Linked DNA regions of Homo sapiens. The protein of the gene in region 1 interacts with the protein of each later gene in a biochemical or structural test. Each region holds a gene or a part of one and is shown in the gene's direction. Other genes may lie near its edges.

What was found.
Region 2: the proteins of RAPGEF6 (region 1) and HTR2A interact in a test that uses a peptide from one of them, tested with the Homo sapiens proteins (one large-scale study listed by IntAct).
Region 3: the proteins of RAPGEF6 (region 1) and SLC26A3 interact in a test that uses a peptide from one of them, tested with the Homo sapiens proteins (one large-scale study listed by IntAct).
Region 4: the proteins of RAPGEF6 (region 1) and PLEKHG7 interact in a test that uses a peptide from one of them, tested with the Homo sapiens proteins (one large-scale study listed by IntAct).

Annotation. Positions count from the first base shown.
Region 1 is NC_000005.10:131,628,730-131,632,229, reverse strand, and holds part of RAPGEF6 (rap guanine nucleotide exchange factor 6), read left to right. Parts: intron 1-3,500. UniProt on the Homo sapiens protein: Guanine nucleotide exchange factor (GEF) for Rap1A, Rap2A and M-Ras GTPases. Does not interact with cAMP.
Region 2 is NC_000013.11:46,890,554-46,894,053, reverse strand, and holds part of HTR2A (5-hydroxytryptamine receptor 2A), read left to right. Parts: intron 1-1,463; coding exon 1,464-1,664; intron 1,665-3,500. UniProt on the Homo sapiens protein: G-protein coupled receptor for 5-hydroxytryptamine (serotonin).
Region 3 is NC_000007.14:107,768,724-107,772,223, reverse strand, and holds part of SLC26A3 (chloride anion exchanger), read left to right. Parts: intron 1-115; coding exon 116-170; intron 171-3,500. UniProt on the Homo sapiens protein: Mediates chloride-bicarbonate exchange with a chloride bicarbonate stoichiometry of 2:1 in the intestinal epithelia. Plays a role in the chloride and bicarbonate homeostasis during sperm epididymal maturation and capacitation.
Region 4 is NC_000012.12:92,705,989-92,709,488, forward strand, and holds part of PLEKHG7 (pleckstrin homology domain-containing family G member 7), read left to right. Parts: intron 1-482; coding exon of another isoform or gene 483-643; coding exon 644-1,150; coding exon of another isoform or gene 1,151-1,165; exon of another isoform or gene 1,166-1,661; coding exon 1,662-1,684; coding exon of another isoform or gene 1,685-1,727; exon of another isoform or gene 1,728-2,561; intron 2,562-3,500.

The DNA of each region.
Region 1 (3,500 bases):
TGTGAGAGTAGTAAGAGATGAAGGAGGAGTGGAGATAATGATGCATAGCATAGGGCACATCCTATTTGACTTTTCAGTGAGGGGGAGCACTGAAAGATTTTGAAGCAGAGGAGTGATATTGACCTACTTAACCTTTTTTTTTTTTTTTTTTTTTGAGACAGAGTCTTGCTCTGTCACCCAGGCTGGAGTGCAGTGGTGCAGTCTGGGCTCACTGCAATCTCTGCCACCTGAGATCAAGCGATTCTCCTGCCTCAGCCTCCTGAGTAGCTGGGACTACAGGTGTGTGCCAACACGCCCGGCTAATTTTTTGTGTTTTTAGTAGAGATGGGGTTTCACCGTGTTAGCCAGGATGGCCTCAATCTCTTGTCCTCGTGATCTGCCCGCCTTGGCCTCCCAAAGTGCTGGGATTACAGGCGTGAGCCACCACGCCTGGCCTACCTTTTTGTTTTTAAAGAGGGTCTCACTATATTGCCCAGTCTGGTCACTAATTTCTGGGCTCAACAGATTCTCCTGCTTCAACCTCCCAAGTAGCTGGAACTACAGGCATGTGCCACTACACCTGACTACCTTACTGGGTAGTCTCCTGGCTGCTGTGTTGAGAATAGACTGTAGGTGTTTAAGGGCAAAAGCAGGAGGTTAACGGCTGTTATTGCATAAAATCAGGTTAGAGATGATGGTCACTCTGACTAAAGTGATAGTGATAGTAATGGAAGTGGTGAGAAGTGGTTAAGTTTTAGAAATATTTTGTAGGGTTAGCCAACAGGATTTGCTAATAGATCAGATGTGGACCTTGAGGAAAAGAGAAGAATCAAGCATGACTTCAAGGTTTTTGGCCTAAATAACTGGAGTGTTGGAGTTATTGTCAGAGAGGTTTGAGCTGCCATCAGCGAGATGGGAAAAGCTGCAGGAGGAGTAGGTTTTAGGGGCAAGATCAGAAATTCAGTTTTGAACATGTCAAGTTTGAAATGTCTGTTAGAAATGAGTAAGAGGTTGCATATACAAATTTGTATTACTAAGAAGCCTGAGCTGGAGATAACAATTTTATAGTCATCAGTTTATAGATATTGAAAGTCATGAGACTGGGTAAAATTACCAAGTAGTGAGTGTACGTAGAGAATAGAAGAGGACCAAGGACAGTGAGTACCATGGGACATGAGATCAGTATAAGGTCGGGGAGAAGAGTAGAAATCAGCAAAGGAGAATGAGTGGAAGCAAACAGTGCAGTAGGAGAAAAACCGAGAGAGTGGTGGTGCCCTAGAAGCCAAATTAATAAGCTGTAAAATAGAAGGGGATAAAATTATTTGTTTGGCTTATTTTTCCTTGAATACCTACTGGGTGCAAAGCGTTGTGAAAAATATACAAAGGGATGAGAATTAGTATGTTGAAATCATTTGTTTGCATCGTGTAATTGATGAGTAAATAATGAGTAAAGAACTCCTTGTGTTTCTGGGACAAAATGAATGGTTCCTTTATTTTGAACCATCTGTCGTCCTTAGGTGAAACTATCAACTCAGGCATAATCCTAGTGAGCCAGACATCAAGTACAGACACATGTTGTAAAGTGTGCCATTTAGATATCTTTCTAACACAGTGTGTGTGTGAGAGATTTCTCCTACTTATAGATTCAGCTTCCACAGAACATTGTCTTTCCTGAGCTAGTTCTTTCTCAATTTGCAAAGATATTCTTATGGAAAATTTCAGACTTAAATACTCCATGGACAATTAAGTGCACTAAAACAACAAAAACTGTTAAGGTACAGACATACCTCCCAGATACTGCAGGTTTGGTTCCAGACTACTGCAGTAAAGCCAATATCCCAATAAAGTGAGTCACGTGAATTTTATTTCCTAGTGCACATAAAAGTTGTTTACACATATAGTAGTTTATTGTGTGTGATAGCCTTATGTCTAAAAAAAGATATATGCCTTAATTTAAAAATACTTTATTGCTAAAAAATACTAACCAGTCATCTGAGCCTTCAGCTAGTTGTCATCTTTTAGCTGGTGGAGGGTCTTGCCTTAGTGTTGATAGCTGCTGCTGACCAATCAGGGTGGTAGTTGCCGAAGATTGGGGTGGCTGTGACAGTTTCTTAAAATAAGACAATGAAGTTTGCCACATCAATTGACTTTCTTTCATGAAAGATTTCTCTTTAGCATGTGATGCTGTTTGATAGCATTTTACCTACAGTAACTTCTTTCAAAATTGGTGTCAGTCCTCCCAAATTCTGCTGCTGCTTTATCAACTAAGCTTAAGCTTATGTGGTATTCTAAATTCTTTGTTGTCATTTGAACAATATGTACATCATCTTCACCAGGAGCAGGTTGTCTCAAGAAACCACTTTTTTTACTAATGCATAAGAGGCAGCTTCTCATCTACTCAAGTTTTATCATGAGATTGCAGCAATTTAGTCACACCTTCAGGCTCCATCTTCATTTCTTTTTTTTTTCTTTCCTTTTTTTTTTTTTTCTTTTTCTTTGAGACAAGATCTCATTCTGTTGCCCAGGTTGGAGTGCAGTGGCGTAATCACAGCCCACTGCAGCCTCTACTTCCCAGGCTCAAGTGACCCCACCTCAGCCTCCTGAGTAGCTGGTACTACAGGTGCATGCCATCATGCGTGGCTGATTTTTTTTTTTTTTTTGTAGAGACGAGGCCTTGCTATGTTGCCCAGGTTGATCTTGAACTCCTGGGCCCAAGCAATCCTCCCACCTTAGCCTCCCAAAGTGCTGGGAGCCAGCCCAGGCTCTATTTCTAATTCTAGTTCTCTTGCTATTTCTACCACACATGCAGTTGCTTCCTTCACTGAAGTGTTGTACCCTTCAAAGTCATTCATAAAGGTTGGATTCAACCTCTTTCAAACTCCTGTTAGTGTTGATATTTTGACCTCCTCCCATGCTTCACAATTTTTTTTTTCTTTTAAGTGATAGTCTCAATACATTGCCTGGACTGGTCTTGAACTCCTAGGCTCAAGTGATCCTCCCACCTCAGCCTCCCAAAGTGTTGGGATTACAGGCGTGAGTCACCATGCCTGGCCCACAGATGGTTTTAATGGCATCTGGAATGATGAATCATTTCAAGACAGTTTTCAATTTTCTTTTCACAGATCTGTTAGGGAATCACTGTCTATGTCAGCTGTAGCTTTATGAAATGTGTTTCTTAAATAACAAGACTTGAAGGTTGAAACTTTTCCTTGATCCATGGGCCACAGAATGGATGTTGTATTAGCAGGCCTGAAAAAAATCACTAATCTCCTTGTGTACCTCCATCTGAGCTCTTGAGTGACAAGATGCATTGTCAGTGAGTAGTAGTATTTTGAAATGAATCTTTTTTTCTGAGCAGTGGGTCTCATCAGTGGACTTAAAATATTCATTAACCCATACTGTAAACAAACGTGCTGTCATTTAGGCTTTGTTGTTTATTTACTGAGCACAGGCAGAATAGATTTAACATAATTCTTAAGGGCCTTAGGGTTTTCAGAATGGTAAATGATCATTGGCTTCAA
Region 2 (3,500 bases), on another chromosome or scaffold:
CCGAGGGCCGACATCTGTTCCGAACAGACAGAGCGTGGCTTCCCCCATAAGGCGCTGCAAAGGAAAAGGCTTTCCTTTCGGCTCAAGCTCTTTGCAAATAATACATGTGAATGGCTGTAAATTAGGCTTGTACCTACGCCCTTTACTTGTCTAAATATCCCTTGTGGCATTTTGGTAGAGAGTGTACGTTTGCGTTGGAGTTTGTTCGGCTTTGTGGGTCTGTAATAAGAAAAGTGGACTTTAAAATTTTCCTTCTTACATGCAGGCAGATCTAACTCCGCTGCTTATACTGTGATCAAAACTAATTAAGGTTTACATAACTGCTTAATCCCCCTCCAAAACACAAAACCAGGACACTTTGTTTATGTCCATAAAGCACACTCTAACCTTCCTCATATAGCAGGTGACCTGCAGTATCTCTTACATTGGAATTGTCTGGGGAGCTTGGAAAAAGCTTTGCAAACGCTTTGACATTTGATGTCCACCTCAGCCCACCCTCCAAACATGATTTAATTGGGCTGGGTTTGGCATGGGCATCAGGACCTTCTCTAAAGCTCTCCAGCTGATACTGATGTGCAGCCAGGGGTGAGAGCCACTACCCTAAAGCAGCTATTCACAAAGCGTGGTCCCTGGACCAGCAGCATCAGCATCACCCGGGAGCTTGCTAATTCAGATGCAAATTCTACAGCCTGCTCCCTACTAACTGCATCAGAACCTCTGGACGGAGGTCCAGCAGTGTGTGTTTTAAGAGGTGTGGCAGAGTCTGATGCTCACTAAAGTTTGAGAAATGCCTCCCTAAAACAAAGCTCAGAGCAAGGACACCTTTCTTTATTTTTCTTCACCCTTGTCTTCAGCTCTCCCTACACATACCCCAAATTTGAGTTTGGCACCCAAAGCATTATTAGATCATTATTTTTCATTTTTACAAACAGACATATTCACAATCTGAATTTTTAGTCATTTAGTCATTTGCACTAATGCAATTTATTGCCATCACTGTATGGGACTGGATGGTTATAATAATGACTAAGAGGTGAGACTAACCTTAGGGAAATACAATCCAGAGAAATATGTGACTAAATCCTGACAGTACAGTGTGAGAGGTGCTCCAGAAGAGGAGCCAAAACACAAATTTTGACATAAGCCATTAACAAAAGAAATGTTTTGCCAGGCGTAAGGGGGAAGAAAGAGAACCCCCAAATAGAGACCATCCAAGCTTACCGTGCCACACTCACATAACTCCAGACACTAGAAATTTTCAAACCCTGCATTCATCAGCCAGTGCTAGCTTATCATAGTTAAGTACAGTTGCCAGTGGGCTTTTTTCAAATACTAAAAATATATTGTGTTGCCCTTTGCCACCACCTGTGCCTGTCCCAGAGCTGGAAATTGTCATAGGATAGGGATACATGTGCTCCAGGAGGCACAGGGTTGCTCACTGACACCAACCTTCTGCCTCATAGGGTACCGGTGGCCTCTGCCGAGCAAGCTTTGTGCAGTCTGGATTTACCTGGACGTGCTCTTCTCCACGGCCTCCATCATGCACCTCTGCGCCATCTCGCTGGACCGCTACGTCGCCATCCAGAATCCCATCCACCACAGCCGCTTCAACTCCAGAACTAAGGCATTTCTGAAAATCATTGCTGTTTGGACCATATCAGTAGGTAAGTGGCAACATATTTCAGAGTCTCATTTGAAATGACAGTTCGTGCTTTCTGAAAAGACTTGTTCCATTTTGTTGTACTGAAACCTGACATCCTCAATCTACTGTTTTGGGTGGTGCAAGATATGTTACAACATCATAATTATCAGATTCGCTTCAGGAAAGAAAAATCTGTTTATGTCACTGGCTGACAACATGAATTTGTATTGCTTTGCACAGGCAAAACTATAAACAGTAGAGCCAAAAAGTCAGAAATAACTGTGCTGTTTTCCCTATTTCTTACTTTCAAGTCCACGACTCTAATTCTTGGGTTTCCCAAAGACCTCAACTTTTATAATCACTGAACTTATGATCAACGTAAGGATGCAGACCACTTTGCTAGAGAACATAAAGCCTCTGGGCTCTAGAGAAAGGTACCATGTGCTGTAGCTTGGAGGGAAAAGGTGGGCCAGAGGAAAGTGCCAGGATTTGCTTTGGGGCAAGGCTGCTTTTCAGTCCGACCCAGTGTCCCTATTGACCTTCCTCCTTTTATGATACCACACACCAAAGGATTTCAACTTGCTTCTGTTAGGTTGATTACATATATTCATCTCTCGCCAGTATTGATCTTCTGTCACACACCTAATAGTCAGAAAAGCCCAGGTAATGGAAGCTAAGGGGGCGGGTCTCAGGCAGTGAAGTGAATTGTACCTGTCAACCTCAGCAGCTTGGTTGGTAACCAAAGATTCTCTGACATTCATTTTAAAATCCAAAAGCTTAGCAGGCAGGAGTGTTGCACCTGTTTATGGCCACGCCAGTGCCAGCATCCGCTAATATGAGAGACTATGAGATTCCACCGCTTGAAATCAAGGGCTTGAGTGAGCTTATCCACAGCATTGGAATAATAGTACCAATAATAAGAGCCAACACAATAATACTATATCTTGTGTATTTTAGTTCCCATTGTTTTCTTTGCTGCTAGCAATGGGAACTATTATGCAATTTGAAGAGTAAGTAGCTCCATCTTATAGATGAGGAAAAACTGGGATTCAAAAAGCAAAATGAGCTGTGCAAAGCCCCACAGCCAGTAAGTAGCACAACAAGGATTTTATTGAATTCTGATGGGAACATCTGATGGAAACACTAACAAATCACACTTGTGTCACTTTCAAATGTTTAAAAAGTCTTACCTACTTCCTATTTTAAATTTCCCATTACCGTTTGAGATAGAAGATTCTATGGTGCTTATTTGATAAATGAGGAAACCAGAATACAGAGGTATTGTGGCTTACTGGATCATGTCTCCAACTTGCAGCAGGACTAGGACTCTAAACTTCCAGCACCATGCCCTGTTCTTTCTGTACCTTCCTTAGGAAACAGTTTTTGCTCCTAGAAAATGCTTGTAGTTTCTGGGACTGTGCAAGTTGGACTCATTCTACTAAGAGCAAGAAAGTGAAGGGCCAGTAACCACTCAATCCCAATTACACATAAAATGCCCCTGGGAACATTCTGATTTAATTGCCTAGGGTGAGGCCAGGTGATTCTAAGGGGCAGTCAGAGTTGAAGACCACTGAGACAGGTTTTCAGGGTGGTCAGCGTGATAAGTAGGAGAATCAAGATTAATGCAGAGGGAGCAAATGAAGCTATTTATTTTTACCCTGATACACTGTCCATAGTTTTACCCCAATATACTGTGCCATTGGTGAGACAAATGCTGGGAAGGTCAACCATCTTTTCCTCAGCCACACTGACTCCCCCATCTCATTCAGGCTTCATGATAACACCAGTAGTAAGGTAACAGTTTCTGAGCACTGAGTACGGACCCAGTAGTATACAAAGCCCCTTAAAGAAAATCAGC
Region 3 (3,500 bases), on another chromosome or scaffold:
TGTTAAAGCTTCTAAAAGGAATATATCACCCGTAAGGTATAATTCTGATTGTTTTCTTTATATTTCTGACAAGTGAAACTGTTCCCTAAGGAAGATATACTTTTCTTTTTAACAGATTTTGCAAGAATTTATCAGGATCAAGGTAGATGTGTATATCGTTGGAACTGATGGTAAGTGGCTTTATTTTTGTTTTATGTTCTGACAATCACTTCAGGCTCACTGCCAACTCTCAGTCTAGACAGCCTCTCCAAAGAATGAGTATTTTATATAATCATGATGAAAATCTAATATGCAGCCAGCCCAATAAAAATCCCTATGGAAACAGCATCTTTGTATTTTAGTTATGTTGATATGTAATTAAATACATTCTACAATTTGAATCCTGATTTCATAGGCAACAAAGGAGGAACATGTTAACTATTTTTCACTCTAAACTTCCTGAAAAGGTAGCCTTGTTTTCTGTCTCTCTTCCTCCCTTCCCTTGCACAATCCAGCCCATAACAATTTGGTTGAGCTTCACCTGCTGATGAGACCATCCTTGCCAAGGTTATCAGCGATGTCCAGATTGTTAGGATTAACGGCCTTCATCTCAGGTCCTTCTGCAGCAGCTTACCTGAGCATCTGGCACTCTCTCTAGCATTTGTCTTTGAAACTCTCTCCCTCCCTGACTCTGGCAGGACAGTTCTTATTCACCTCCTACCTCTCAAACATCTCCTCAGGGTCTGACATTGGTTCTTCTCCCACTTTCAGTCTCCCCCAAGCTTCAACCGTACACTCTATACCATAGTTCTAATTCCACAGACTCTTTCTAGTCAATTTCCTACATGTTTATGATTTCATGTGCATCTACTTGTTAATGAATCCCCAAACTATACCTCCAGCCCAGGCCTTTCTTCTAAGCTGCAGACCAATGGACTCGACTGTGGATGTCCCCAGGCACCTCAGATACACGCTTTTAGAACTACGTATATGATTCCCCCTCCCAAAAATACTTCTTTCCTATCACAATCACTGCATCACTGCTTACCTAGTTTTCCAGATAGAAACCCTGAAACCATCACCAATTTCTGCTCTCCTTCCCTCTAGTCAATGACCAGGTCCTATAAATATTTCCTCTTAAATCAGTCTCTTCCTCTCCATTTCCAGAACTTTAATCTAGACCCTTCTCACTTCTCAACTAGGCCTTCTAGAAGGACTTTCTAACTAATATCCTTGCCCATCCCTATAATGCTCTCCCATCCCATTTTCTGAAAGAAGCCTTCTTCAGGAATTTTTCCGACAATAACTGAAAACATCCTTGCTTCCCCAGGCAGAGCACCGGGTCTTCAGACTGTTTGTATCTACAGAGTACGCACGTATCACATAATTTTGCAGTTCAGTTTCTGTCCCTACTAGACTATATCTCTTCCAGGGCAGGTATTGTTCCTGCTTACCTTCTTCCTGTCTCTTCCCTAGATCCTAGGACATGATGGGCATTCAGTAAAGACTTATTGAATACCTACTATTTATCAGGCACAGTTCTGGGTGCTGGGAATATAGCAGTGAATCTGACAAGCCTCTGTCCTCATGAAGCTTATAGTCTCATAGAAAAGCCACATAATAAACAAACAAAAGCATATTTCAGGTAGTGATAAGTGCTAAGAGAAAAGCAGAGTTAAGAAACAGAGGCTGGGAGCGGTGGCTCATGCCTGTAATCTTAGCACTCCAGAAAGCTGAGGCAGGCAGATCACTTAAGCCCCAGCGTTTGAGACTAGCCTGGGCAACATGGTGAAACCTCGTCTCTAAAAAAAAAAAAAAATGTTAGCTGGGTGTGGTGGCATGTGCCTGTAGTCCCAGCTACTCAGGAGGTTGAGATGGAAGGATCGCTTGAGCCTGGGAGGTCAAGGCTGCGGTAAGCTGTGATCGTGCCACTGCACACTAGCCTGGGTGACAGAGCAAGACCCTGTCTCAAATCAAAAAAAAAAAAAAAAAAAAAAAAAAAAAAAAAAAAAAAAAAAAAAAAAAAAAAAAAAAAAAAAAAAAAAAAACCCCTTTTTTTTTTTAAAAAAAAAAAAAAAAAAAAAAAAAAAAGAAAGAAAAGAAAGAGAGAAAGAAAGAAAGAGAAAGAAGAAAGAAGAAAGACGAAATAAGAAAGAAAGAAAGAAAAAAGAGAGAAAGAAAAAGAAAGAAAAGAGAAAGAAAGAAAGAAAGAAAGAAAGAAAGAAAGAAAGAAAGAAAGAAAGAGAAAAAAGGAAGGAAGGAAGGGAGGGAGGGAGGCAGAAAGAAAAACTGGTGATCAGGGATGTCCAGCAATATGACATTTTGAGTACAGACTAGAACGAAGTGAGGCAGTCAACCTTGACAGTACTTAGGGGGAGCTTTTTAGGGAGAGGAGACAAGTGGTACACATATCCTTCGAAAAGTATAAAATTGGCATCCTTAATCTCTCCCTTTCTACTGGATCCTGTCCCTAAAATATACAGACATATTCTAGTTTCAAGACTTTTAAAAAAAACTTTTAAGTTCAGGGGTACACATGCAGGTTTGTTACATAGGTAAACTCGTGTCATGGGGGTTTATTGTATAGATTATTTTGTCACCCAGATATTAAGCCTAGCACCCATTAGTTACTTTTCCTGATCCTTTCCTTCCTCCCACCCTTCACCCTCCGATAGGCCCCAGTGTGGGTTGTTCCCCTCCATGTGTCCATACGTTCTCATCATTTAGCTCCCACTTATAAGTGAGAATATGCAGTATTTGGTTTTCTGTTCCTGCATTACTTTGCTAAGGATAATGGCCTCCAACTCCATGTACCTGCAAAGGATATTGTTTTTTTTTAATTTTTTTATATGTTTTTATATAGTATTCCACGGTGTATATGTACCACATTTTCTTTATCCAGTCTATCACTGATGGGCATTTGAGTCCATGTCTTTGCTATTGTGAATAGTGCAGCAATCAATGTATGCATGCATGCGTCTTTATAAAAGAATGATTTATATTCCTTTGGGTATATATCCAGTAATGGAATTGCTGGGTCAAATGGTATTTTTGTCTTCAGCCCTGTGAGGAATCGCCACACTGTGCTTATACACTGTTGGTGGGAGTGAAAATTAGTTCAACCATTGTCAAGGCTTCCTTATAATTAAAAACATCCCCTTGATCCCAGAAACCTTTAATTTACTAACAATTTTACCCTTTCCTCATCATCCCAGATATTTTGGAAAGTATCTGTTCCTGCTGTCTCTGCTGCCTGGCATTCTTTTCAGTCTTTATCAAAGATTATCACCTTCCTTCCCATTGCATGCCACCCACTCCATCCCAGATCCTGGTGGCCACAATGCCCTCCACGCTCCCTCTCCCTCTGTCACTGAAAGCTTTCTGTAAACAGAAGAATCCATCTTCATAACTGTGTACCTTCTCTTCCTCCACTTTTCTGCAAATCCTAGGCACGTTTAGACGGTATCTGCTCAAGTTTTCCCAGATACCCACCAAGAGGAAAATTTCTCAGAATTTTCATA
Region 4 (3,500 bases), on another chromosome or scaffold:
TACTTTACATCAGTTACCTTCAAAGCCTGTCTCATTCTGTAATTTAAACCTTGAGGGAAGGAGGCTTGTTTTCCTTGTTCTTGCATCCCCAGAATGCACCACAATATGTACATACATACATAAATGTAGATGATAAGGAGGATTTAATGTATATTTGATTCTCTTAAAATGGAATAATCACAAGGGGAGGAGCTATGTGGTTTCCAGGAAGTACCTTAAGTTACCAAAGTTTTTAAAGGCTTTTTTGTTTGAACCTAGAAGGAATATTAAGTAGACAGTAAACAGACTTCAATACGCTATTTAGATGAGAAGGCTGGAGTCACGTATATTAATTATCTTCTGAACGTAAAGGATGCTGATGTGAACTGAGCTCTATTGCCTATGAAGAATTAGAAGTTTTCCTTTGAAATTTTAGACCTTTTTTCTCACTGCAGTCTCCCTCATTTGCTACATATTTCACAGTCTGCTCTTCCTCACTACAGATGCAATAACCTGCTTGACATTCTCCTCTGGAAAAGGAAAAGAACTACGAGAGGAAGCATGGCACTTGGATGCAGAAATTGAGCACCCTCCATGTGATCCAGAGAACAGCAACTCATACGTCTTCTGGAACCTTCTACCAACAGTAGAACCTCTTAGCTTTATGGAGAAAACAGAGTCATTCTGTCCAGAGGTGCCACCCCAAGACTGTGGAGCCTCTCCTCGGCCCTCGCTGAGGAGCCTGCCAAAGAACCAGGGGAGTCTCCTCCAGTTTGACCGGCAAGCCCCAGGCCGCATCTCCACCTCGCCCACTTTGAGGAGATTAAGGACCCGTGGCTGTGGGACAAGGCAGGATGCCTGGCAGGTGACCACCTGGGGAAGCTGGGGAGCTCCTGTGGGCTTCCCATGTTACCTTTCGAAGAGCCTGCCAGGAAGCCCAAAGGATTCTTCACACTTGCTGTCACCCTTGAGACTCCACTCAAGATTGACCTCTGAACCTGAAAGGGCCCTGAATGCAGCTGACTCACTGGAGCCCCAAACCCGGCCCACTGACAAGTATCTCCCTCCTGAGCTTCAGCCTGTCAATGAAGGGTCCCTTCACCAGGCCTCTCTTCGGCAGCAAGAAGGCCACTTCCTGCCCAGCCCCACCCTACGACACCCTAGTCCTCAGGTAACACAGCTCTAAGCCTCCGGCCTCTCAGTTGCTGAACCACAAAGCAAAATAGATCTCAGAGTTGCTTAGTTCCCCCAAGGGCCAGTAGATCCTAAAAAGGAGACAGCACAGGAAGTCACACTGAGGGGACACATTCTCTTTAGGAAGCATTGGCTCTTAAGTGAAAGGAGGGCAGCAATCTGGGGAGGAAAGAAAATGATCTCGCTCACTTTCTTCTGTCCTTAGAGGCACTTTGAGAAAGGATGCACCAAGGCCAGGCTTACCGATGGTCTGTCAGGTACCCGAGAGCAATGGGGGCCCTCTTGCAAATGCACACTATTTAAAGACAACGTCGTGTCACTGATTTAAAAGGGGAGAAAGAGCCAGTTATTCAAATTTCCAATCCCACCAAAATGTAAAACATGTTTTAACTAGGAGGGCTCATTGTTTCTCCTTTCAACATGTTTGCTTTGGAGTTTGGGATGGGTTTGAGCAAGACTAAAACATATGTTCTTAAAATTTATTTCAGGGAGAAGAATTGCACCCATCCAGGTGTGTATGCATTTATTTTCTCCGGTGCTATGACATCTGTTGACTATTTACTATTAGATTTTTATTTCTGTCCTGACATAACAAAGCTGACGGTGTGTTAACCAGTGCACTTTGTTTTATAGCACTCAAGTCACTCTTCGCATTTATAGGTGCACGAGTTTTCATTTCAAGAGTCTCCCTTTAAGAGCACAGCATTTGGGGGCAGGATACAATGCCATATGCAGTCATAGTTTTCATTTTGAATTGTCAATGTCTTGGCCCTGTGGCTTAATTAACATCCACTTAGTAATAGGTTTTGTCTGGTAGAGAAAATAGAAAGGCCAGAGATATGCAACAGCTTTTCAAAGAAAAATTTGGAGGATAAAAGAAAGGAACAAGATGTCCTGGTTAAATCTAGGGTGACCTTTAAAATAACCTGTTATGACAGACTGTGCCCTTATCCAGAATGAAGTAGACTGTGTCATTTCCAAAACCAGCTCTGAACTTTCAGCACGGCCCCCTGGTTGTAGCAATGGATCTGCCATCTCTGACAGGGATGAAGAGTTTCTGCAGCAGCAAGGGAAAGATCCATGCCCAATTTTATCTTCCTGACTTGTGGGATTGGCAGGAAAGCCCTCATTTCATTTGAAAAGTCACAGAGGATTTTTTTGGAGAAATAGCTGCTGTTTTATTACTGGACCTCAATCCTCAAGCAATAGTTTGATATTCATAGCAGTAAGGATAACATCCATGTACACATTCTTTGTTGATTTTAATCCTTGTTGGCCTAATTGTACCAACAAAGGTAGAAGATACTTACCAAGCCATAGGGAAATGCAAATTGTTATGTCTGTGTATCAGCTAGCTGTTGCTAGATAAAAAACCACTTAAAGTAACAGACAGTTATTGTTTCTTATAAATCTCTGTGTTCCCTGGGGGTGACTTGGTCTAGGCTGGGTTTAGCTGAGCAGTTCCACTCCAAATGTTCCTTATCCTGCTCATGGGATCAAAGGGCTCCCATGGGTCCATGGGATCAATTAAGCAGATTCTTTATACAGTGAAGGGAGAGGTTCAAGAGGACAAGTAGAAACATGCAAGGCCTCTTGGAGCCTGGGCTCTGAATCTGGTCTAATTTTATTGACCAAAGCAAGTCACTCAGTTGAACTCAGCGTCAGGGAATTACATGTTACCAACAGTGGGAGAGCATTGAAATGTTACATGGCAAAGTGTATGGATGTAAGGAATGGGGAAGAGTGGGGCTGTTAATGTAAATCTTCCATACATGTGAAACAGAATAAAGCTCTCAGATGAGATCTAGTTCAGTTGTGTCAAAGAAAGTGGAAAAGGGTAGTCTTAGAAAAAAAAATTATGTTTAGAGTCGAATTATTTTAATAAGATTTTGAGAAATTTTATTCCTTACCCTAAGAGCAGTGTGAAACCATTTGATGAATTGATATGATCAGATGGATGTCAGATATACCTGGGATTTAGATGCAAGTAGACTTGAGTCAAATAATTCGAATGTTCAGGTATGAGAAGTTGTTAAGTTAGATTATGATGAAGGCAGTGGGGTTAAAAAGAAGTATCTCAATGCAAGAGATATTTAGGAGATACAATCCCCCAGACTTTGTGAATGGTAGCCTATCAGGGTGAGGGAAAGGAATCTTCAAGAATGACCTCCAAGCTTCTGGCTTGTTCAACTGGGTAACCAAGGTGTCCATTCACTGACCTAGATAAACTTGGGTAAAGAAATTAAATATGAGTGGTTAGAGTGTAGGTCTTGTGTTCAGGTTTGGACATGTTGAGTTTGAGGAACTATGAAACATCTAAGTGGAGA